Linked DNA regions of Homo sapiens. The protein of the gene in region 7 purifies or fractionates together with the protein of the main gene of each other region. This does not show direct contact. Each region holds a gene or a part of one and is shown on either strand. Other genes may lie near its edges.

Region 1 (3,500 bases), on a different chromosome or scaffold from region 7:
AGGTATGTAGCTTTTATAAAGTCAAATCTAAGATGATTTAGTCACTGAAGTATCATTTTAATTATTGTTCTGATGTCAAGAATATTTTTAGCTGTAGCATTTTTATCCGTTCAGAGGTGTTATGGTCGTGTGCAGCAGAAGCAAAAGTGGAATAGAAATCTCACATTCCTCTAGAAAAGAGAGAGCAAACTTTATAGGAAACTACCTTTAGGTTATCTGCCACTTTGCATAAAGCAAATTCTAAAAAGACATAGTGCTCATTTATGCAGCAAGTGGTTTTTGAGTACCAGGGTTTGGGATTACAGTGAGGAGCAAAGGAGGCAGATGTCCCCTGCCCAGGCAGCTTCATGTCAGAGAGGAAGAGACTCTACAGCCTGCATGCAAGAGAATTGAGCTTTCAGGCTCTTTCACAATTTCCCCTGGCCTTGGGTGCTTACAACCTAGCTGTAAAATAGTCAATTGTTACAGATACGGGAGTACTGGAAAATAAGATCATGTTCTCTGAGCTGGAAGGTTTGCTGGAGCATGGATAATCCCATAAAGCAATGTCTATTCTGTTCCCCAGCTCAGGCGTAATTAAAACACTCCTGTGTTACATTCTTGATGCTAATGTTAGGCCAGGGCATGGTTCTGCTTCATGAGAAAGAAATTGACCAAAATGGAGCCTGTTTCATAAATCAATTATACATGTTTTATATAATGAAGAGCAAAGTACTTTAACTAGAATTTTATTTTTTCTTTAGGGTGATCAGTTATGAAGAAGGGAAAGCTTTGGCAGAATCTTGGAATGCAGCTTTTTTGGAATCTTCTGCTAAAGAAAATCAGGTAACAGATTCTATAAACCTCATTTTGCATTGCGTTCTCATCAGTCGCAGGGATGTGTTCCTTGCAGTTGGCATTTGACCTCTGTCTTGATCACTCCTGTGTAACATCTGGCCTTCCTCCATTTCTAATACCAAGTTTTGTGTTGCTTTAGGAAGATACTACTTAGGTGTTTATAAATTCAGTCAGTATTCTACTTACAGTGGAACCTAGGATATTTGTAGGATAAACAGAAACTATTAGTAAAGGAAATACTACCTTTTGTAAACATATATTTTTGGTTTGTATTAATAGCTGGTACAGAAATAAGTCCATACAGGGGAAAAAAAAAGAATTATATCACTTTAGTACTAATTTTGTAACTACCCACCCCCTGGCTTTTTTTCTGTTAGATGAAACCGGGTCAGACGTACGTGTTAATTGTTAACATAGAAATGATGAAGAACCATCTTATAAGCATTTAGTACCAATTTCACCCCGCAGATGTGCCTTCAAAGGCATGTTCTGGGAAGGATGTAGATTCTGCCTCCGGAGGCTTCACAGTCCTGTATGAGCCCTTCTCTTCCATTGCTCTAATTTAGACCCCCGGCACCAAGCTTGTCTCCCGCCCCCAGTGCATTTTTCACCTATACATTTTTTTTGCTGCCCTTAATTTTCTAAAGATACACATCTGATGGTATCATCCTCTACTCAGAAACTGTCAGTGAACTGCCCCTTCTCTATAGAACCCTTCGCCTGGTCCTGAATGCAGTCAATAATTTGTTCTTTTCTAGTTTCTTCTCTCACCACGTTCTTGTACTTTCCATCACATCAAACTGCTCCCTTCCTTAAACACACCATCTCCTGTCCACCCCACTTTCAAAATGTCTCACCTTTCCTCATGCTCCCCTCCGGTTTAAAATAGCCCTTCTCTAAGTATCTACTTAGGTTCATGTGGGGTTTTATATTTTGAATGTGTTTTCAACATGTGGTGGTGTTTGATCCTCAGGTAAGATGACTTGGTTTTCATTTCTCTGAGGAAACTCTAGTATAGTAGGGTGGTGCCTCCTCCCTGGGAGGGCCGGGCGCCAGCAGCCTTGGCACTCTTCCTTCCCTGCCCCGCCCCTCTCCGCAGCACGGAGGTTTGTAGTCCTCAAGGCCCCACCTAGATTTCACCTTCTTGTTGACCCCCTCTGGATCCATCCAGCTGAAAGAAATTGTGGTTTCTTCTCTTAGCCCTCTTAATTTGTTCTGAGATCTGAGTCAGTATCATTTATATAAATATCCTTCATAATGTTTAGCACAGTGGGTTATCCGTCAGCCCAAGTATCCTGTGATAGTCAAATTGGCTTTGTCCTGTGTTGGGATATGGAGGGATAGTGAATCCATGTGGTTATGTCCTCTTATGTGCGGATGAAAAAAACTGATTAAACAGATGTGTGTAATTCGTTCCCAAGTTCCAGATAGCAAGGGATTTATCGAAGTCAGCTCAGTTTCTGAGTATACACAGAATTCAAATAAGAATTGAGATAGTTAAGAGATACCTATATTTTAAAAATTGAATTAAATCCATTGAGTGCCTATGGACTGTATCCTTCAGATCATGTAGTTAAACCGCCTCATTTTAGAAGTGAGGAAATTAAGTTTCAGAGAAGTTAAATGACTTTTCTAAGATCACCCACTACCTTACGTGGTATAAGAACTAGGACTGAATTGTAGATCTCATCCACATCTAGTCCTTTTTTCTCTACACACTGCTTCCTGTCAATCAGGTGATCTGAAGCCGGTGACCTAGATTAGACAAGCGGGGTGGGACCTGGGGTTGGCTTCAGTTAACTAGGAGGACAGACGCCTCATTCATACCAACAGGACAGAAGGCTGAGGATGGGAGCCCACATTCAAGTGGGTGGGTCAGCTTGGTGGATGGAGGATGTGGAGTTCTTTCATGAATGTGGCTTCTGTTTTCCAGTGAAGTGTGTAAAACAAGGTTTTCAGCTGAGCGTAAGCACGGGGAACATTTGAGGAGAAGGGACAAGGCGTGGATGCTTTCTCTGGGGAGTGCCCAGATCCAGGGATGCAGGCGGGTGGCTAGGCAGCACCAAGTGTCTGCGCCAGGTTCCTGGTCATGGGTGTGAGGTCAGCAGTGAGCGGTGTGTGTTTTCCCTGGGCAGCGTTTACGGTGTGGCCGCGGGCACCGTGCCAGCGACAGTTGGTAGGGAAGGGAGTTGAAGTACAGTGGCGCCATGGTGGCCTGCTGAGTCTGAGCTGACCGAGAGGGAAAGGAGCAGCAAGAAGTGGTTAAGGGACAGGGGAGATGTAATAATAGGGTCAACAAATCAGGCCCCTTGTGGGGCTGAGAATTGTTGCTTCAGGATAGCTAGAGAAAGAGCTGGGAAGGTGGTGTGGTGGGACGCTGGCAGTTGGTGTGTTCTGGTTTCGTGGGATAGTGGAAGTCACTGGAGTGATGGGGGAGGGGGATTCTTGGTGATTAGGAGAACAGGGTACTTCCTGTGGGGCTTCTGAGAACAGGGGCAGTTTTTCATGACCACAGGACTGCATTTCAAGGACAGGGTCTGGGAGTCACGGTGGCTCAGGCCTGTTGTCCTGGTGCATAAGGAGGCGAGGCTAGGCTTTCGAGGCCAGCCTGGGCAACATAGAAACCTCCAATCTGTATAACAAAAAAGGAAAAATAAAGGACA
Region 2 (3,500 bases), on a different chromosome or scaffold from region 7:
CCTCATTCCTTCAACCCCTTCCCCTAACCACCACCACCACCACCTTTTAGGAAGCCTCAGCATGAACAGAGAAAGGAGCAGGAGCCAAAAAGACCTCACATTAAGAAGCCTCTGAATGCTTTTATGTTATACATGAAAGAAATGAGAGCGAATGTCGTTGCTGAGTGTACTCTAAAAGAAAGTGCAGCTATCAACCAGATTCTTGGCAGAAGGGTAAGTAGCCGAGTCATGTGTAAATGTTCATGGTAGCCATGGAACTGCTTCATGAAAATCTGCCCCAATTTAATCCCATATCAGGTGGTCATAGAATGTGTTTGCACTTCAAGATATGATATGATGCATTTTAAAGAATTTTGATAACTGTTTTTACTGTTATTCTTTTTTTTTGAGACAGCGTCTCACTCTGTTGCCCAAGCTGGACTGGAGTACAGTGGTATGATCATAGTTCACTGCAGCCTTGACCTCCTGGGTTCAGGCGATCCTCCCACCTCAACCTCCCGAATAGCTGGGACTGTAGTCGTTGTGCCACCATGCCTGGCTAATTTTTTTTTTCCAATTTAAAACTTTTAATTAAAAAGTAAACTTTAATGTTGAAAATGCAAACTTGGGGAGGGCAGGAAGATCACACACAAGGCTGTCACTTCACACTTGGAGGGTTGCACAGAGGCCGGGCAGAGGCGCCCCTCACTTCCCAGATGGGGCAGCAGCCGGGCAGAGGCGCCCCTCACTTCCCAGATGGGGCGGCAGCTGCGCAGAAGCGCCCCTCACTTCCCAGACGGGGCGGCAGCCGGGCAGAGGCGCCCCTCACTTCCCAGACGGGGCGGCAGCCGGGCAGAGGCGCCCCTCACTTCCCAGACGGGGCGGCAGCCGGGCAGAGGCGCCCCTCACTTCCCAGACGGGGCGGCAGCCGGGCAGAGGCGCCCCTCACTTCCCAGACGGGGCGGCAGCCGGGCAGAGGCGCCCCTCACTTCCCAGACTGGGCGGCAGCCGGGCAGAGGTGCCCCTCACTTCCCAGACGGGGCGGCAGCCGGGCAGAGGTGCCCCTCACCTCCCAGACAGGGCGGCAGCCGGGCAGAGGCGCTTCTCTCTTACCAGTCAGTTGGGTGGCCGGGCAGAAGGGTTCCTCACTTCCCAGTCAGTTGGGCGGCCAGGCAGAGGCACTCCTCACTTCCCAGATGGGGCAGCCAGGCAGAGGGGCTCCTCACTTGCTAGACGGGACAGTGGCCAATGCCTGGCTAATTAAAAAAAAAAAATTTTGTAGAGATGTGGTATTGCTATGCTGCCCAGGCTGGTCTCAAACTCCTGGGCTCAAGCAAACCTCCCACCTTGGCCTCCCAAAGTGCTGGGTGAATAAGTGGGAGCCACCGTTTCTGGCCCTGTTATCATTCTTTTTTTTTTTTTTTTTTTGAGATGAGTCTTGCTCTGTCACCCAGGTTGGAGTACAGTGGCATGATCCTGGCTCACTGCAAACTCTGCCTCCCAGCTTCAAGTGATTCTCCTGCCTCCGCTTCCTGAGGAGCTGGAATTATAGTTGCCTACCACCACACCTGGCTAATTTTTGTATTTTTTTTTTCAGTAGAGACAGGGTTTCACTGTGTTGGCCAGGTTGATCTTGAACTCCAGACCTCAAGTCATCCACCCACCTCGACCTCCTAAAGCCCCATTATCATTCTTTAAACAGATATTTATTATCCTTTTGGGTCAGGCATGATGCCTGGAGATTAGGTAATAATTGCTGAATAAAGTAGATGCAGCCACTGGGCACGGTGGCTCATGCCTGTAATCTCAGCACTTTGAGAGGCCGAGGCAGGCAGATCACCTGAGGTCAGGAGTTCAAGACCAGCCTGGCTGACATGGTGACACCCCATCTCTACCAAAAATACAAAAATTAGCTGAGTGTGTGGTGGTGGATGCCTATAATCTCAGCTACTCGGGAGGCTGAGGCAGGAGGCAGGAGAATCACTTGAACCTGGGAGGCGGAGGTTGCAGTGAGCCGAGATTGTGCCACTGCTCTCTAGCCTGGGCAACAGAAAGAGACTCTGTCTCAAAAAATTAAATAAATATCCACCTAGAATTTACAGATCTATAAATCATTGTTAGGGCCTCTATTAGCCAAAATAGGTACAGCCCCTTTCTGGAGCTTCAAGTTTTATGACAGAATACAGACATTAGACAAATAAATAGCCAATAAATATGTAATAAAAATTATGATAAATACTGTGAATGTAGGGAATAAGATTCAGTGAGAAAGAACAGTAGGGGCTTGGGCAGGCCCCTCTGAGGAAACTGTATTTAAGCTGAGATGTGAGAGTAAGTAGAGACGAATGGGGAGAGGTAGACTCCCCCACATGCAGATGGAGTAGCATGTGTGTGCCGCCTCTGAAACAGGAAAGCGTTTAGCTCTTTAGGGAGCTACAGCAAGGCCTTTGGGGGACCGTCCTGGCAAACAGAGGTGGCCACTCCTTCCAGGACAGAAGCAGAGCTGTTCTACCATGAGGCTTTACATGGAAGAATGTATATGATCCTGAGGAGTCTTGATTCTAGAAAGACTGTTCTCCAAATCTCCAAGTGTACACCTGCCAGGTTTCTGGGTTGCCCTTTTCTTTTCATTCATTCTTTCACCAATGCTATGATATTTTTCTGAGCCCCTGTTATGTACCAGGCAGCAGGCTACAACTAGGATAGACACTCTAAGATTGTTTATCCAACTGTCAGCCAAAAGACATACATAGTCAGTCCTTCCAAGTACTTTGTATGGGATTGAAGTGATTTCAGTTAGATGGCTGAAGAGTGGTAAGAAAAGTTTGAGTTTCTCTAATTTAAATTACATTTTCACCATAGTCACGTTATCATTATAATTTTAGAAATGTTTCATCTTAATTTGTTGATGCTCTTCATATCTGTGTGGTAGCCTCTTAATTTGTGACCCTGTGTTTGTTTTTGCAACCTCTCAAGAAATTCATGATTGGCAAATGAACATTCAGTTGAGGAGGATCTAACAACCCTTGTGAAACATAGAGGATCATGTGTTAGCTATTGTCGATGATAATTTTACCAGGTCTGTTCTGAACCTAATAAATTTGAGCATTTATAACAGAAAACATTTAGGAGATTTCCAGTCCATGTGAACAGGAGGGAAGCAGGCCCTCTTACATTATCGATTCCCATTGGATAGCCTCAAAATGCAGCTATTTCCAATCTGCAAGTCACCAGGGTTTCCAGGGGAGGATGTGGTGATAGATTATAGCTTTTTTGGTGTCCTGTGTACAATGCCCTATCTCCCTGTGGATTCTTAGACACTTAATAACAATAATTACAATGCTTTCCCAAGCCAGATCATGGCAGATGAGTGATTCCCATCATCTTGGAAGAACTCCGCCTTAAAAACTGATGATCATTTTCCCTGACTCTTTAAAAGAAGAAATCAGAGGAAAAGAAGGGCTGATGTTTTTATTTCAGCTTGTATGCAACTCTTAGTTTTTTCTTTTTTCTTTTTTGAG
Region 3 (2,405 bases), on a different chromosome or scaffold from region 7:
AGCTGGGTAGGAAGCTATTGAGCAATGTGAAATAATTAGGAGATGATACCCAGTGTGTATAATTAAGCACCCGGGTACCAGGTGCAGTATGGATCAAAGGTTTGCAGGGACCATTAATCAAGTGAAGCTACAAGTGTTGGGAACCTTTCCTTGAAAGATGGACAAGAATTAAAGAGTATGGAGATGAGGCATCTAAGCTGAGTGAATTCCCTTTCCTCTGCACTCCCAGAGCTTTGAGTTGAGCCAGGGTGCCGCTCTGGCCTGTTGATTGGCAGCTCAGCTAATCATCCCTGGTTTTCCAGGCCTATCGCTGGATGATTGACTCCAGAGATGACTTCACAGAGGAGCGCCTGGCCAAGCTGCAGGACCCATTCTCTCTATACCGCTGCCACACCATCATGAACTGCACAAGGACCTGTCCTAAGGTACGTGGGGCTGGTGACCCTCAGCTCTGCCTCAGAGCTGACACGCCAGAAGTAGCATGTGCTCACAAAGAGGTGATTGGCAGAGAGCAACCCTAGTCATTTGAGAAGGAAAGGGACCAGCATATGCCTGTCCTTTCAGTGTGAGCCTAGGGGCTAGTTTGGCTCTTAGTTGCAAGGAGTAGACTGACTCGGGCCACCTCAGGAGCAGGCTTTATTTGTAGGCTACACAGGGACATTGTGGGAGTTAAGGATGCACAGGAACCCATGAGCAGGTACCTGCGTTCAACCTTCCCAGGAAACAGAAAGCGAAAGCCGTTGGAACGTGGGCAGCTGTGAGGACTTCATTTCTTCTCCATCTTTCTCGCGATGTCAGCTGCTAATCTGCTCTGCTCTCTAGCAGCCTGTTCTTTCCTTCGGCTCTGTGGAGGTTTTCTCTGACTCAAAGCTCTGGCTTTCGTTCCTCTTCCTGCTCGCATTTGCTGCTGCTTTTGGCTCACTCTGGCCTGGATTTTGCCTCCCAGCACACTTCCAGCTTCAGCCACCCGCCTGCCTCCCAGCACTTCTCAGCACAGTTTCCTGAGAGGGTGTCGCATTGGCCCAGCTCACCTTCTCATGCCTGCACATCAGAGGCCACAGCTGGCTACAGACCGGCTGCCCTTTGGCCAGGTTCTGTCTCAGTCTGTTTTGTGGTACTATCACAGAATTTCAGACTGGGTAATTTTATAAAGAAGTTTATTTGACGCACAGCTCTAGAGGCTGGCGCCAGCATCTAACAAGAACCTTCGTGCTGTATTACCCCATGGCAAAAGGCAGAAGGGCAAGAGAAAGGGAGCCCAAGCTCAGCCTTTTTTTTTTTTGGAGACAGAGTTTCGCTCTTGTTGCCCAGGCTGGAGTGCAATGGCACGATCGATCTCAGCTCACCACAACCTCCGCCTCCCAGGTTCAAGTGATTCTCCTGCATTCGCCTCCCGAGTAGCTGGGATTACAGGCAGGCACCACTCATGCCTGGCTAATTTTGTATTTTTAGTAGAGATAGGGTTTCTCTATGTTGGTCAGGCTGGTCTCGAACTCCCGACCTCAGGTGATCCACCCACCTTGGCCTCCCAAAGTGCTGGGATTACAGGCGTGAGCCACCGCGACCGGCCCCTCTCATCTGTTTTTTTTAAAAGACAGGGTCTCACTGTGTTGCCCAGGCTGGGGTGCAGTGGCGCAATCATAGCTCACTGCAGCCTGGAACTGCTGGCCTTAAGTGATCCTCCTACCTCCTGAGTAGCTGGGACTACAGGCACACACCACCACACCTGACTAATCCAAACTCATCCTTTTATCAGGAACTTACTCCTATGATAATGGCAATCCATTTGTGAGGGCAGAGCCTTCATAATCTAATCACTTCTTAAAGGTCCCACCTCTCAATACTGTTGCATTGGGGATTAGGTTTTCAACACATGAGCTTTTGGGGACACATTCAAACCATAGCAGGTGTCAGCCCTGGTCCAGTCAGCCTTGCCCAGTGGGCAGGGAAGGGCTAGGGCTGTGTGGTTCAGAACACGGCTGCCCTCCGAGCAAAGACTGTGGGTGATTTCACTCAAAAGTTGCAGTGAGTCAGTGGGCGGCAAGGTGGAAAACTGTAGGGTGGCCAGTTAGCCGTAAAAAAAGATCACACTGTGTGTTTGAAAACATGAAATCCAAGCTGTAGAATTCACTTATTTTTTGCCTGGAAACCCTCTGTGTTTCCAGTGGCCTCGCTGGGGGAGCCCACAGGCTTCAGCTCCCTATTGCCTGGGCTTCCATCTGGGTCCTGTCCCCAGGACTGTGGTTTACCATGATTGTGCCTGTGAATAGCTACTGACCTCTGAGGCAAGTTATGCTATAAAAGTGCTTGGAACAGTGCCTGGCACATAGTAAGCACCCAATAAATGTCACCTTATGTTATTTTTTAAAAAAACATGAGTACTGGGCTTGTTTGAGACAGAGATA
Region 4 (3,500 bases), on a different chromosome or scaffold from region 7:
TAGCAAACAGACAGATGCTGCTAACAGTCTTAGCAGTACCTGGTGAAAAAAAATTGTGGTTAAAAAAATATAATTTTTAAAAATATAATTTTTAAAAGATGCAAAATGCATCTACATAAACACATGACAGTATCGTAAATCCTCCAATACGGAAGGTAAGTTGTGTAAGTAAATAGTAAAGACTCTATAATTTTTAAAAGATGCAAAATGCAACTACATAAACACATGATGGTATCGTAAATCCTCCAATACGGAAGGTAAGTTGTGTAAGTAAATAGTAAAGACTCAGGCTGAGCGTGGTGGCTCATATCTGTAATCCCAGCACTTTGGGAGGTCAAGGAGGGTGGATCACGAGGTGGTGAGTTCGAGGCTAGCATGGCCAACATGGAGAAACCCCATCTCTACTAAAAATATAAAAAAAATTAGCCGGGCATGGTGGTGGGCACCTATAATCCCAGCTACTGGGGAGGCTGAGGCAGGAGAATCACTTGAACCCGGGAGGCAGAGGTTGCAGTGAGCCGAGACTGTGCCGTTGCACTCCAGCCCAGGCGACAATGTGAGACTCCATCTCAAAAATTAATAAAGACTCAATATTAAAGTAGACTGTGAGGAAAAGGTAGATCAGAAATTAAATTGAATAATATGTTTGATTTATTTTCATGTTTCTCTCTTTTATTCTTATGATAGTCTCTCTACTATTTTTCAGCTAATGATGCTGGCTACTTTAATGATGAAATGGCACCAATTGAAGTGAAGACAAAGAAAGGAAAACAGACAATGCAGGTAGACGAGCATGCTCGGCCCCAAACCACCCTGGAACAGTTACAGAAACTTCCTCCAGTATTCAAGAAAGATGGAACTGTTACTGCAGGGAATGCATCGGTTGGTATCACCACACAGATTAGCTTGAATTCTTCCTGGTGTGTTCAACAAAAGTAATCATGAAGTATCTTGTAAATACTTTTTATGCCAGTCTTTAGTTGTTTAGCTTAAACTAATAGTGTTCATATTCAATTAATTTAGGTTTTCATAGACCCACACAAAATCTTTTCATATTTATTTATATAATACTCTTCTGATTTCTTAATTTTTTCAGAACTAAGAAATTTCAGAAACAAATCTATCTGGCTTATTTTGGTTTTCAAACTTTTTTTTTTCTCATGCATACAGTTTATCGTATTTCTTCTTACATCTACTCACATCTAGATAAAAGTTTTTCCTTGACACCCTTTTCCTTGTTCTTTAGTAAAGTTGTATTCTGTGCCTTAAAAAATCTCCTTCATCCACCACAGTACCACTTTTCTAATTGTATCTCACACTGTGCACTGGCTTCCTATGTACTGCCATATTCCTAATACTACTAGTCCATTAGTTCAAACTTTGATTAACTGGATTATTTTAGCCTTTAGTTAATCTAGTATTTTTATTTTCAAGGGTGTAGCTGATGGTGCTGGAGCTGTTATCATAGCTAGTGAAGATGCTGTTAAGAAACATAACTTCACACCACTGGCAAGAATTGTGGGCTACTTTGTATCTGGATGTGATCCCTCTATCATGGGTATTGGTAAGTTTATAGTAAAACAAACTGGTTCTATAATATTTCTGGAGGTAAGTCTTCTTTGGCATTCAGAGTCCTGAAAAAGTGGCCAAACCAAGGTCACCTGTAGAGAAAAGAAGATTGGTAATCAGTTTAAATAAAAAATCTTTATGAAGAACTGTCCTAGACACAATAGAAAAACCAAGACCGTGTAAACTCCATGGAGGAAGTAATCATATCTTAGTGTCCATTTGAGATTTAAAAAATCAACACACAGTAATTATATCTTATTGTTCCTTTGAGAGTTTAGAAATCAACACAGAAAATAACAGAAGAATTACGTGATCCTGACAAGATAAAAGAAATTATGAGATGGGAGAAATCCTGGGGTGAAACAGAGAAGGCTGTATGGAGAAGGTGGTATCGCAGCTCCTTGCTGGTTGTTTTACACACATTCAGTCTTCCCACGTCTCCAGTAAGGGAGACTTCTTTGTGAATGAGAAAATTGAGGCTTAGGGAGGTTGTCTTACAAGGTTCCAAATCAGTAAGTGACAGCCAGGGTGTGAATCCAAGTCTCTCTGAAATCAAGTGCTCTCTTCACTGTGAGTTAAACGCATAGTCTCAGGAAGTCAAATTAATATTCCTCTTGCTCAGGTGAGTATTAGCAAAATAAAGACTTATAATTAGATTGGTAAAATGCTAGATGGAAAAAATTTGGAAGTCCATAAACATGTATAGTCTTGGCTTAAAATATTTGATTTAGAAGTAGAACAAAGAGCTTTTTGCTGGATGCACTCCTAGGAACCACACACGATGCTGAATTTTAATAGTTCCTGTCATTCTCTGGGGGAACAGGGAACCAATTAGGTGCCTTACTTAGAAAAATAAAATTTGGTGCTCAGTAACTTTGATATATCCCACCTACATATAACCTCCCACTGTAAGGAAAAGCCTGCCCTAGGGTATAGATTTCAGATTGTTTAGCCCTTTTTTGAATAACTAAATTGTTTTCTGAGGTGGGTTCCAAGAGAGGAGGAGGAGGATAACCTGTTACTGACCTGCCATCTCAGAGATCCTTCAGTGTAAGCCTACAGGTTCTACTCAAACAATACCACTTACACTGACTTGGGATTAATACTCAACCATATTTGCTGCCATGTCCCTCAGAGAAGACATATCTCTGTATAGAGTTCCTAAGAAAAAAAGCTGGCATGTTCATATTTTGTCATCTTTCACTATGTGTCTCAAATTTATGTCAGCAAGAACTGCAAGATATTTTGACACATATGAAAAGTCAATCTTAAGCTTATTAGCTTTTGGCTATCCACTATTGGCAAAAGATAACTTTTGTCTTAGAAATGGAAGGTGGTGGAAAAATTAAACATCCGTATGTTGTTATGGCATTTATTATTTTGATATCTAGGGTAGTGGTTCCCAACCTCAGATGATTGTCAGAATCCACTCATAACCCCCACACCCTTAGATTTTGTTTCAGTAAGTCCAGAGTGGAGCCCAAGAGCAGAGTTGGTTTTGTTTTTTGTTTTTGACACAGAGTCTCGCTTTGTCACCCAGGCTGGAGTGCAGTGGCGTGATCTCAGCTCACTGCAACCTCATTCTTCCCAGTAGCTGGGATTACAGGTGCCCGCCCCCACGCCTGGCTAATTTTTGTATTTTTAGCAGAGACAGGGTTTTTCCACGTTGGCCAGGCTGATCTCAAACTACTGACCTCAGGTGATCCGCCCACCTCAGCCTCCCAAAGTGCTAGGATTACAGGCGTGAGCCACCATGCCCAGCCCAAGAGCAGAGTTGGTTTTTTTCCTGCATACACCTAGATGCTTTTGATGATCAAACAAATGTATGTGACATGGGTTGGCTATTTTATACTCCTTTTTCAGTTTAACTTTATTTAATAGGTTCTGGTAGATTAGCATAGCCAGTGAACCAAGAAAGCGTTGTTTTCCTT
Region 5 (3,500 bases), on a different chromosome or scaffold from region 7:
GAAACCCCATCTCTACTAAAACTACAAAAAATTAGCCAGGTGTTGCAGCAGGTGCCTGTAGTCCCAGCTACTCTGGAGGCCAAGGGAGGAGACTTGCTTGAACCTAAGAGGCGGAGGTTGCAGTAAGCTGAGATATTGCACCATTGCACTCCAGCCTGGGCAACAAGAATGAAACTCCATCTCTAAATAAATAAATAAATAGTGTAAATAAATACTGTATAAAATGCAAAGCACTCAGAATAGCCAAAACAATTTTGAAGTCAGAAAATAGCACTTACATGCTCTGATTTTAACATTACCTATAAAGCTGTTGTAAACAAGACAATGTGGTTTTGGCATAAGGACAGAGAAAGAGAACAGAGTTCAGAAATAGACCCAGACTTATGCTTGTTTTCAACAAAGGCATCAATGGAATGAAATGGAGAAATTAAAGTCTTTTCAACAAATGGTGCTGGAATAACAGATTACTCACATGGGAAAGATGAACCTAGATCCCTACCTCACACCCTATATAAAAGCTAATTTGAGATAAATCGTGGATTTAAAAATAAAAGCAAAAAATGTAAAGCTTCTAGAAGTATATATAAGAGAATAGCTTTTACAGGGTGCAGTGGCAGGTGCCTATAGTCCCAGCTACTAGGGAGGCTGTGGTGGGAGGATCACTTGAGGCCAGCAGTTTGAGGTTGTATAGTATACTATGGTTGATTTTGCCTGTTAGTAGCTGCTGCACTCCAGCCTGGTCAACATAGTGAGACATCATCCAACAAAAAAAAAAAAAAAGAAAGAAAAACAGCTTGATAAGTAAAGACAAGACATAGAAAGCAAAGCAATAACTTTTTTGTGTGTGTGTGTGGAGACGGGTCTCACTCTGGCACCCAGATTGGAGTGCAGTGGCTCAATCTTGGCTCACTGCAACCCCCACCTCAGCCTCCTGAGTAGCTGGGACCACAGGTACTCACCACCATGCCTGGCTAATTTTTTGTATTTTTTGTAGAAATGGGGTTTCACCATGTTGCCCAGGCTGGCCTCAAACTCCTGAGCTCAAGGGATCCTCCCACCTCAGCCTCCCAAAGTGCTGGGATTACAGGTGTGACCCACCAAACCTGGCCAATTCTCACATTTGTAGAAGAGAGTTACAAATACGGAAAGGGAGAAGAATGTAGCTTGTGGTGTTAGGTTGCATTTTGGAGAACTCAAAATGCAGTATGAACTCAAGGTGTTACCATGAGTGTGTGTGTATATGTAAAATTATAAATAATACATATGGAAGTTTCTACTGAACAGACCTAGAAACAATGACAAACCAGTAACAACAAGCAGTCCTGACACCCAGATCTTCTAAATACATTTATCCACTAAAAGGAACTAAGGTTGTTTGGAGAAATGGCCCTTTCCAAGGCTAGGGAAAAAATGCTAAAAAATTAAGGACATGCTCAGGGACATGTTGAAAGCACACAGGAGGCAGCCTACGGGGCTTCCACTTTCCTGTAGTGGAATTTTGAACAATTTGAGCATCAGAGTCAGTAATGATAGTAATGGGTTGTAACTGCCCAAATTTTGAACAATTTCAGCGTGCAAATAAGTTATGATAGTAATGGGTTGTAACTGCCTAAATTTTGAACAATTTCAGCGTGCAAATAAGTAATGATAGTAATGGGTTATAACTGCCCAAGTATTGAAAAATTTCAGCATCAAAGTAAGTAATGAGAGTAATGAGTTATAACTTATTCAATAAAATGAAAATGTATGAGTCCATCCTGATATAAATAACTGAATAAATGGGAGAAAAGGAAAAGGTTTTCTTTGTGGTAAAATGCCAATTAATATCTTACCAATAGAAGGAATGTTGGAGTTAGAAAGTCATGAATGAATGCTAAAACTAGTGGGTGAAAATATGATGGGGAAGAAGATATTTGGATAATCCAAAAAGAACCTCTGATAAATTATTGATTACTTATAAATGAAAAAATGGTACCTTTAAAAGCTAGAAACCTGGTGAATACCAAACCATTTTAACCAAGTGATCAAAGATAACATCACCTGGGATAAACTGATTGTCATTTGTGTCCTAATAAGACTCACTGAGAAAAATCATACTATCATTCAGTGGTATACCTGCCTTTTGGCAGAATCTTAATCTAATTCTGAGGAAACATCAGACAAATCAAAATTGATGACCCTTAACAAAAGAACTCGCCCATGTTCTTCAAAAATATCAAGCTTAAGAAGCATAGTCTGAAGAACTGTTACAGACAAAAGCAAACTAGAGAGATTGATAGTTGTACAATGCATGCTTCTTTATTGGCTCAAATAAAGGAGCTAGAAGGACATTACTGAAATATAGGTGAAATTTGAATGTGGACCAAGGATTAGATAATAGTGTTTGATTCATGTTAAATTTCCTGATTTTTGTTTTGTTTTGTGAGACAGGGTCACCCAGGCTGGAGTGCAGAGGCACAATCATGGCTCACTGCAGCCTTGAACTCCTAGGCTCAAGTGATCCTTCTGCCTCAGCCTCCCAAGCAGCTAGGACTACTAGCTACATGGCACACACACCATGCCCGGCTAAATTTATTTTTAATGGAGACAGGGTCTCGCTGTGCCCAGGCTGGTCTCAAACTCCTGGGCTCAAGTGATCCTCCCACCTCGGCCTCCCAAAATGCTGGGATTACAGGTGTGAGCCGCCACACTTGGCCCAATTTCTTGAGTTTTATAACTGTGCTTATGTAAGAAAGTGGCCTTGTTTTGGGGAAGTATACACTGAAATTAAAATTTAAGAGTAAGAAGGCATTGTATCTCCAACTTTCTCTCAGATGGTTCAGAAAGAAAATATTAAAGCAAATGGAGGGAAAATATAAATGGTGACTCTGGGTGAAGGAAATTTCTGTAAGTTTACAATTATATAGAAAGGGAAGGAGAGAAGTATGACTCCTGAGAGTCACTGCAACATTTCCAAACCAACTGCCAGTGGCAGGCAGGGCCACCCCACACAGAGCATTGCACAGGCCACCATGAGCCTGCTAGCATATGTGGTCAGTCAGTGCTTGGTCAAATGTGGACGACTTGAGCTATCAAATGCCAGTTCATGAAAATGTTAGTTTTTTGCTGTTTTTCTCCTTTCCCAGCTGAAAATGTAGCCAAAAAATGGCAAGTGAGTAGAGAAGATCAGGACAAGGTTGCAGTTCTGTCCCAGAACAGGACAGAGAATGCACAGAAAGCTGGCCATTTTGACAAAGAGATTGTACCAGTTTTGGTGTCAACTAGAAAAGGTGAGTATATCATAGTGGTTTAAACATCAACCTATTTATAGGTAAGAGTAACATCTAAAAGAGTAATACATAGGAATCTTTAGAAATTATATCTTAGTTATGTTTTTCAGGTTGCAAATATATGTCCTGGATACATGAATGTGGGGAGGGGGTATGCTGGGTTTACAGGACACGGTAACATGGGACCTATGTCAGCACTCAAGCACTCTTGGTTCCAGAGCGTCCATGACC
Region 6 (3,500 bases), on a different chromosome or scaffold from region 7:
CCCTAGCATGGCACATTGCCCTTATTTATATTCTGCTTTCCTTGTCGTACATAGCCTGGCAACCCATGCCACTGTCGCTGTTAACAGAGGAAGTTGGGGTTTATTTGTTCACTGCGGTTTTCTTTTGTTGTTTGTTTGTTTGTTTGTTTTAGACAGGGTCTCACTCTGCCACCCAGGCTAGAGTGCAGTGGTGTGATCTCGGCTCACTGCAGCTTCAGCCTCCTGGGCTCAGGGGATCCTCCTACTTCAGCCTCCTGAGTAGCTGGGACTATAGGGGAGTGCCACCACACCTGGCTGATTTTTGTATTTTTTGTAGAAATGTGGTTTCACCATGTTTCCCAGGCTGGTCTTGAACTCCTGGGCTCAAGCGATTCCAAAGTGCTGGGATTACAGGCATGAGCCACCATGCTCAGGATGGTCATTGTGTTTTCCGTGGGATAAACGCATTGGCATTAGGGGAAGGCTTAGATCGACAACACACCCGCACAAACACATCAGCTGTCATCTCTTTACCCTCAGCATTTCTCTGGAATGTCTAAGTTAAGCTTTAAGACGTTGGTCAGATCTTAGAGAACTGGCAGAAAGGAATTTCAATGAAACATTGGGTCAGATTGCAAATGAAAAAGCTTGAAATGTGGGGATGGCCACGTTTTAATAGGTTTTTGGTTTTTGTTTTTACATGAAAGGATTCTCATCGCTTTGGAAGGCACCTGAAAGAAGCAATGACTGACATCATCACTTTGTTTGGTCTCAGTTCTAATTCCAAAAAGTAATTCCACTGGAGCTGCTGGGAAGGAAAACGAGCTCTTCTGATGCAAACCAAATGAAAAATAGGCATTAATCCTGACCTTAGCTCGGGATGAAACACTGCTCTTAAAAAAACTCAGTTTTCCTTCCAGAAAATGTGGGTGTTTTTTTTTCCTAGAACAGTATCTCTCCCCTGTGAAGCATAACCCCACTACTTCCAGACTTGCCCTCCCTTGGGGGACATCTGATAAAGTCTCCCCTGATGTCTCCGCATCGGCTTGGATTTATTAAGGGATGCAAATCTTGTTGAGTTAATGAAGGAATTAGTAGGGTTGTGGCTTCACACACAGTGGAATGGAAATGGTGTGCTTTCTCAGTGGCAACCGAAGGCCTAGTGCTTAAGGGCATTTAGCATCATCCAAGCAGGGTAAACTTTTGTTTTGTTAAAAGAAAAATGTGTTATTCAAGTTGGTGTCCCCAGTTGTAGCTAACACATCTGGAATGCACTAACCAAAATGCTGTGCTTTGGAGACCTGCTTTTGTCACCGTGGGTAACCGTTCCCGTCTGGTCCAGTAGCCTGTGTTTGCCTCTCCACATTTGAAGCAAGCAGGATGCAAGGTCTTCAGTTTTACTGACCTTGTATGTCTTCAAGTCTTCACAACCCAGTGCCTTAAAAATGAAAGGCCCTAAATGTAAGGGAGATGGAGAGAAAGATTTATTTTGTAGAGTCTTTGGGTGGAATTGTGGGTATACTGTTCCCTTCACAATTGACTGAGTATGGATAACCGTACATAAGCATTTGCTACACCCCACCAGCCCCCTCCCCCTCAGAAACACCAGTTCCTTCCCAAGGGCAGCTGTGCCAGACTCCCCTCCCGGGACTGCCTTCTTGTCATCATAAGCAACAAAAGAAATAACAGGCACATGTCATAAAAGGGGAGCAAGGGCCGTGATGGTCAGATAATTCACTCAAGAATAAAACATGACACGTGCCTCAGGAGGATCTCTTTCCCAAAGTGACAGCAAGGAGGGCAGGGCATCGGCCACCAAGCGGGGACTAGCAAGTGAGGAAGGGGAGGGCAGCCCACCGTGGTGAGGAGAGAGTGGCTCCACGACCCCAAGGGATGGCCTTCTCCTCCCACCCGGTGAGGGGAAAGACTCACCAGAGGGTGATGGAGACAGTATGCCGGCTCACCTTGGTGACCAGCCAAGATGTCTCAAGTGACAGTGCTAGGTGTTCACCCAGCCTGTCCTTCAGATAGGAGTGCCTTCACGAAAGCGTCTCATGGACCACAAAGCAATTATGCACTGAGTCATCTTCAGTATTTAATGCAAAAATGAAGCATCATGGAATGAAATTCCCACTGTCTGTCATGACAAGCTTAGCTGTCCATTGTTTTAAATTGTGTATTTATTTTTTTGACCACTTGGTTCTAGTTGGGCCTGACTCCTTCAGAGTGCTGCACCCCGATAGTACAACAGCGATGGCTGAACTGTTGGAGTCGATGGAAGGTGCTTGCCGGAGAACACGTGCCTTTTTTTTTTTTTTTTTTTTTGAGATGGAGTTTCACTCTTGTTGCCCAGGCTGGAGTGCAGTGGTGCAATCTCGGCTCACTGCAGCATCTGCCTTGCAGGTTCAAGCGATTCTCCTGTCTCAGCCTCCCAAGTAGCTGGGATTACACGCCCAACACCATGCCCTGCTAATTTTTGTATTTTTAGTAGAGACGGGGTTTCATCATATTGGTCAGGCTGGTCTCGAACTCCTGACCTCAGGTGATCCACCTGCCTCAGCCTCCCAAAGTGCTGGGATTACAGGCATGAGCCACCATGCGCGGCCCACATGCATGTTTTATGTATGTATACTTCATGATGTAAAAATCCCACCTTTATGGGCCAAAGATTTTTTTTCTCCTGAAAGCAAGAAAAAATGAAAACAAAAGACAAAAAAAAAAAAAAAAGCGTCCAGGCGCGGTGGCTCATGCGTGTAATCCCAGCACTTTGGGAGGCCAAGGCGGGCGGATCACGAGGTCAGGAGATGGAGACCATCCTGGCTAACACGGTGAAACCCCGTCTCTACTAAAAATTCAAAAAATGAGCCGGGCGTGGTGGCGGGCGCCTGTAGTCCCAGCTACTCAGGAGGCTGAGGCAGGAGAATGGCGTGAACCCGGGAGGCGGAGCTTGCAGTGAGCCGAGATCGCTCCACTGCACTCCAGCCTGGGCGACAGAGCGAGACTCCGTCTAAAAAAAAAAGCAAAAACAAACCAACAACAAAAGCCCCTGACTGTCCGTCAAGCAGGCAGCGGGGATGTAGCTCTCTCTGCCCTGGGCAAGAATAGCACTTCCCGTTAAAAGCCAGCAGCCGGCGTCAGTCCCTATCAGAGCCAGCTAGATCATGCACTGTTGACCACTGAGCAATCTGTGTTACACTAGAGTTCACAGGGCATTTTGAGTGTAGACGTGAGTGCTTAAACATATTTGGGTTTCTCTCTCAGGTTTTAAATGTTTCAAATGTAATTGTTGCTCATCAGTGCAGTTATCAATGCAATTTTATATTCCTTGAGGGGAGAAAGAGGGGTCTTATTGTACATGTCCAAGGGGGGTGATAAGAGTATTATCTGTTTAATTTAATTGGAACAAACCATTGTCTTAACGCAGCCATGGTTTGAATTTGTTATCTTGGGCTGACCGGTGCATGTAAATACAGTATGCTCTTTGGATGTAAATCTTAGAAATGCAGTGTGAATGTAGGTTA
Region 7 (3,500 bases):
CTGCTTAGTCAATTATACATTACATGTACTACACAGCAACTAAACAAAATATTTTCTCACAGCATATGGTATAGTCAATAAATGCAACAGTTGCTGGGCATGGTGGCTCATGCCTGTAATCCCGGTACTTTGGGAGGATGAGGCAGTCGGATCACTTGAGGCCAGGAGTTCGAGATCAGCCTAGCCAACATGGCGAAACCCCGTCTCTACTAAAAATACAAAAATTAGCCAGACGTGGTGGCACATGCCCATAATTCCAGCTACTCAGGAAGCTGAGGCATGAGAATCACTTGAACCCAGGAGGCGGAGGTTGCAGTGAGCCAAGACTGTGCCACTGCACTCCAGCTTGGGTGACAGTTCGAAACTCCATCTCAAAAAAAAAAAAAAAATGAATAAATGAATGAATGAAACAGTTACATAATTTCTTAGTTGTATTAAAATAAGAAATATAATCACTTCCAAGAAGGAAACAGAAACAAACATGTATTTATAATACACGCACATATCGAGTATAAATAATATCAAGTGTTACACTTATTTAATCCCATCAGTAATCTTGAGGTGGATATTGTATTCTATTTTAAAAATTGAAAAATTAAAGTTAAAATTAAGTGTTGGATAACTTGTCTAATAATCCAAAAGTATGACTCCAGAACCAATGCCCTTAACAATTCTACCAAAAGAATAGTCTCCGAAGTGGAAAGCATAAAGCTTTCCAAGCTAAATGGGTATGGAAAGAAAATACCAGAATTTCTATTTTTACCTATCAAAAATTAGAAACTAAGCTTTACAAATATTCAATATATGGATCAAAACCAGCCTTTTAGTAAGACCACAGGTCAGATGATCATATGTCACTTACTGGTACTCAAGGTACCCAGAGGAAAAAACAAGAAGTACTCAATGTAGAAGAACTGACTTTCCTTACCTGCTGGCTCCTTTTCAGTGTACTGTGACATATATGGCAGCGTCTGTGTGACCAGTTCAGTAGAATTATAGATGTGATTTAGTTTTTATTCACACTATGGACAAGCCGCAGAAGATTCCTACAAAGAAACAATGAATTGAACAATATATTAATAAAAGCACAAAAATAGCAAAACTGATACTTCTGCTCCTCCTAGTGAAGTCTTATAATAAAACTTAGAAAAATACAATGTGATGTAGCCAGCATGGTGGCAAATGCCTGTGATCCGCCTTAGATTACAGCACTTTGGCAGGCCAAGGCGAGCAAATCAGTTTGAGCTCAGGAATTCGAGAACAACCTGGCCAACATGGTGAAAGTCTGTCTCTGCAAGAAATACAAAAATTAGCCAGGCGTGGTGGTGCACACCTCTAGTCCCTCAGGAGGCTGTGGTGGGAGGATTGCTTGAGCCCAGGAGGTGGAGGCTGCAGTGAGCCGAGATCATGCCACTGCACTCCAGGCCTGGGTGACAAAGTGAGATCCCGTCCCAAAAATAAATAAAAACAAGAAAAATACAACACAATTTGACAAGCCAATCAAAAACTCTCAGAAATACCAAAATGGCTATGTGAAATACAGATTTACATCTGCTCTTGATAAACCTTGCCTAAGTATATATCATCCTTAAGACTGTCAATGACAACAACACATACATAATTTGTAAGTAAACAAACAAAAATATCAGAAGTACTGACTCAGGTATGTAACCAAACTATTTGGGAGTCTACTACACTGTGCTATCATTGCTTCTCTGTCAAGCAGTAAAGTTCCTTTAGCCCTGGAATTGCTAAAAGGTAACTGTAAGAATACAAACTTCATTTTTTAAAAATGTGTAATGGCTTATAACAATAATTAATGTGTGTAAATAATGATGTATTTATTCTTTGCAATAGTCAGTTGATCAGATAATTTAATCCCAAATAAGAACCTATTTTCAATCAGGAAAAACTACAATTTATCATGGAACAAATACAAAAAGAACTTCTGTTTTGAAATTAATGCATTTATTTACTATTTGAAAAGTACTATTTGAGAAGTTGCAACCTGTGGTTTTTTTGAAAGTTTGGTTAAGTTTTTATTTAAACACCTTATTTATTTAAACACTTGAGCTACTGCTAATTGCTCATCATTAATGCAATAGCTCTGCAAATGAGTTTAATTTATATGTTACCTGTCTAATCACAGACAGATATATATTAACATACGTAAGAGTACAAACCCACATTCACCCATATAATTTATAAATTCAGTAACAAGTTATGATCCTTTAAAGTATCTGAATCAAAAGAGGCTGTTAGCAACAGCTAAAGAGAAAAGGAATATAAAAATAATAATAATCTTAACATACTGGCAAAAACATAGGTGCTAATTAACAGTGTTTTAACTTTTTTTTTTTTGAGGGCGAGTCTTGCTCTGTCGCCCAGGCTGGAGTGCAGGGGCTTGATCTCGGCTCACTGCAACTTCCACCTCACGGGTTCAAGTGATTCTCCTGCCTCAGCCTCCCAGTAGCTGGGACTGTAGGCGTGTGCCACCATGCCCGGCTAATTTTTGTATTTTTAGTAGAGACAGGGTTTCACCATATTGGTCAGGCTGGTCTCAAACTCCTGACCACGTGATCCACCTGCCTTGGCCACCCAAAGTGCTGGGATTACAGGCATGAGCCACAGTGCCTGGCTGAAATGTGCGTTTTATTCTGAGATGGAAAACCATCAAAGTTCTGACCACAGAAGAGATATTTGACTTCTGTTTTAAGAAGAATGCTCTGGCTACTGTATTGAATAGCATGAAGAGGAATGAGGTCTAAAGCAGGGAGCACTGTTAAAAAGCTATCAAAATAATACTGGTAAGAGATCATAGTGGTTTGGACCAGGGTTAAAATAAAGATGGTAAGAAATGACCAGATTCTGGACATATTGTAAAAATACAATCAACAAAATTTACTAATATAGGATATGAAAGAAGGTCGAGGTTGACTCCAGGTTTTACAGGCTGGGCAATGGGAAAAATGGAGTAAATTTCAATTAATGTAGGAAAAATTGTGGAAGAGCCAGATTTGAAGAAAATATATTCAGTTCAGTTTTGGATGAGTTAAGTTTGAGATATCTATTAGACATTCAAATGGAAATATTAAATAGGAGTCTGGTGTTGACTGAAGAATTATGAGCTGTTAGTATAATTTGGGAGTTGTCAGTGTATAGATTATACCAAAACAGGTATGAACTTGGATGAGATCTCTAGGTGTACATGGAGAAGTGAAGTTAAGCCCTGAGAAAATCAAATATGAAGAGGCCAGGGAAAAAGAAGCAGAGATTGAGTATCCCTTTTCCAAAATGCTTGGAACCAGAAGTGCGGATTTGGGATTTTTTCAAATCTTTGAATATTTGCATATACATAATGAGATATCGTGGGGATGACATCCAAGTCTAAACAGAAAATTCACTTGTTTCCTACACATCTTACACACACAGTCTGAAAGTAATTTTATACAATACTTTTAATAATTGTGTGCATGAAATAAAGCTTCTGTTAAGTACTG

What was found.
Region 1: the proteins of PJA2 (region 7) and RHEB purify together in Homo sapiens (affinity purification with mass spectrometry, with the first as the bait; one large-scale study listed by BioGRID). This does not show direct contact.
Region 2: the proteins of PJA2 (region 7) and LEF1 purify together in Homo sapiens (affinity purification with western blotting, with the first as the bait; one study listed by BioGRID). This does not show direct contact.
Region 3: the proteins of PJA2 (region 7) and SDHB purify together in Homo sapiens (affinity purification with mass spectrometry, with the first as the bait; one large-scale study listed by BioGRID). This does not show direct contact.
Region 4: the proteins of PJA2 (region 7) and ACAA2 purify together in Homo sapiens (affinity purification with mass spectrometry, with the first as the bait; one large-scale study listed by BioGRID). This does not show direct contact.
Region 5: the proteins of PJA2 (region 7) and ACAT2 purify together in Homo sapiens (affinity purification with mass spectrometry, with the first as the bait; one large-scale study listed by BioGRID). This does not show direct contact.
Region 6: the proteins of PJA2 (region 7) and CPT1A purify together in Homo sapiens (affinity purification with mass spectrometry, with the first as the bait; one large-scale study listed by BioGRID). This does not show direct contact.

Annotation. Positions count from the first base shown.
Region 1 is NC_000007.14:151,467,896-151,471,395, reverse strand, and holds part of RHEB (GTP-binding protein Rheb), read left to right. Parts: coding exon 1-2; intron 3-743; coding exon 744-825; intron 826-3,500. UniProt on the Homo sapiens protein: Small GTPase that acts as an allosteric activator of the canonical mTORC1 complex, an evolutionarily conserved central nutrient sensor that stimulates anabolic reactions and macromolecule biosynthesis to promote cellular biomass generation and growth.
Region 2 is NC_000004.12:108,074,933-108,078,432, reverse strand, and holds part of LEF1 (lymphoid enhancer-binding factor 1), read left to right. Parts: intron 1-50; coding exon 51-213; intron 214-3,500. UniProt on the Homo sapiens protein: Transcription factor that binds DNA in a sequence-specific manner. Participates in the Wnt signaling pathway. Activates transcription of target genes in the presence of CTNNB1 and EP300.
Region 3 is NC_000001.11:17,020,628-17,023,032, reverse strand, and holds part of SDHB (succinate dehydrogenase [ubiquinone] iron-sulfur subunit, mitochondrial isoform 1 precursor), read left to right. Parts: intron 1-302; coding exon 303-425; intron 426-2,405. UniProt on the Homo sapiens protein: Iron-sulfur protein (IP) subunit of the succinate dehydrogenase complex (mitochondrial respiratory chain complex II), responsible for transferring electrons from succinate to ubiquinone (coenzyme Q).
Region 4 is NC_000018.10:49,789,534-49,793,033, reverse strand, and holds part of ACAA2 (3-ketoacyl-CoA thiolase, mitochondrial), read left to right. Parts: intron 1-706; coding exon 707-882; intron 883-1,434; coding exon 1,435-1,564; intron 1,565-3,500. UniProt on the Homo sapiens protein: In the production of energy from fats, this is one of the enzymes that catalyzes the last step of the mitochondrial beta-oxidation pathway, an aerobic process breaking down fatty acids into acetyl-CoA.
Region 5 is NC_000006.12:159,772,045-159,775,544, forward strand, and holds part of ACAT2 (acetyl-CoA acetyltransferase, cytosolic), read left to right. Parts: intron 1-3,125; coding exon 3,126-3,269; intron 3,270-3,500. UniProt on the Homo sapiens protein: Involved in the biosynthetic pathway of cholesterol.
Region 6 is NC_000011.10:68,754,917-68,758,416, reverse strand, and holds part of CPT1A (carnitine O-palmitoyltransferase 1, liver isoform), read left to right. Parts: intron 1-686; coding exon 687-773; 3' UTR 774-3,500. UniProt on the Homo sapiens protein: Catalyzes the transfer of the acyl group of long-chain fatty acid-CoA conjugates onto carnitine, an essential step for the mitochondrial uptake of long-chain fatty acids and their subsequent beta-oxidation in the mitochondrion.
Region 7 is NC_000005.10:109,382,475-109,385,974, forward strand, and holds part of PJA2 (E3 ubiquitin-protein ligase Praja-2), read right to left. Parts: intron 1,047-3,500; 5' UTR 960-1,046; coding exon 929-959; intron 1-928.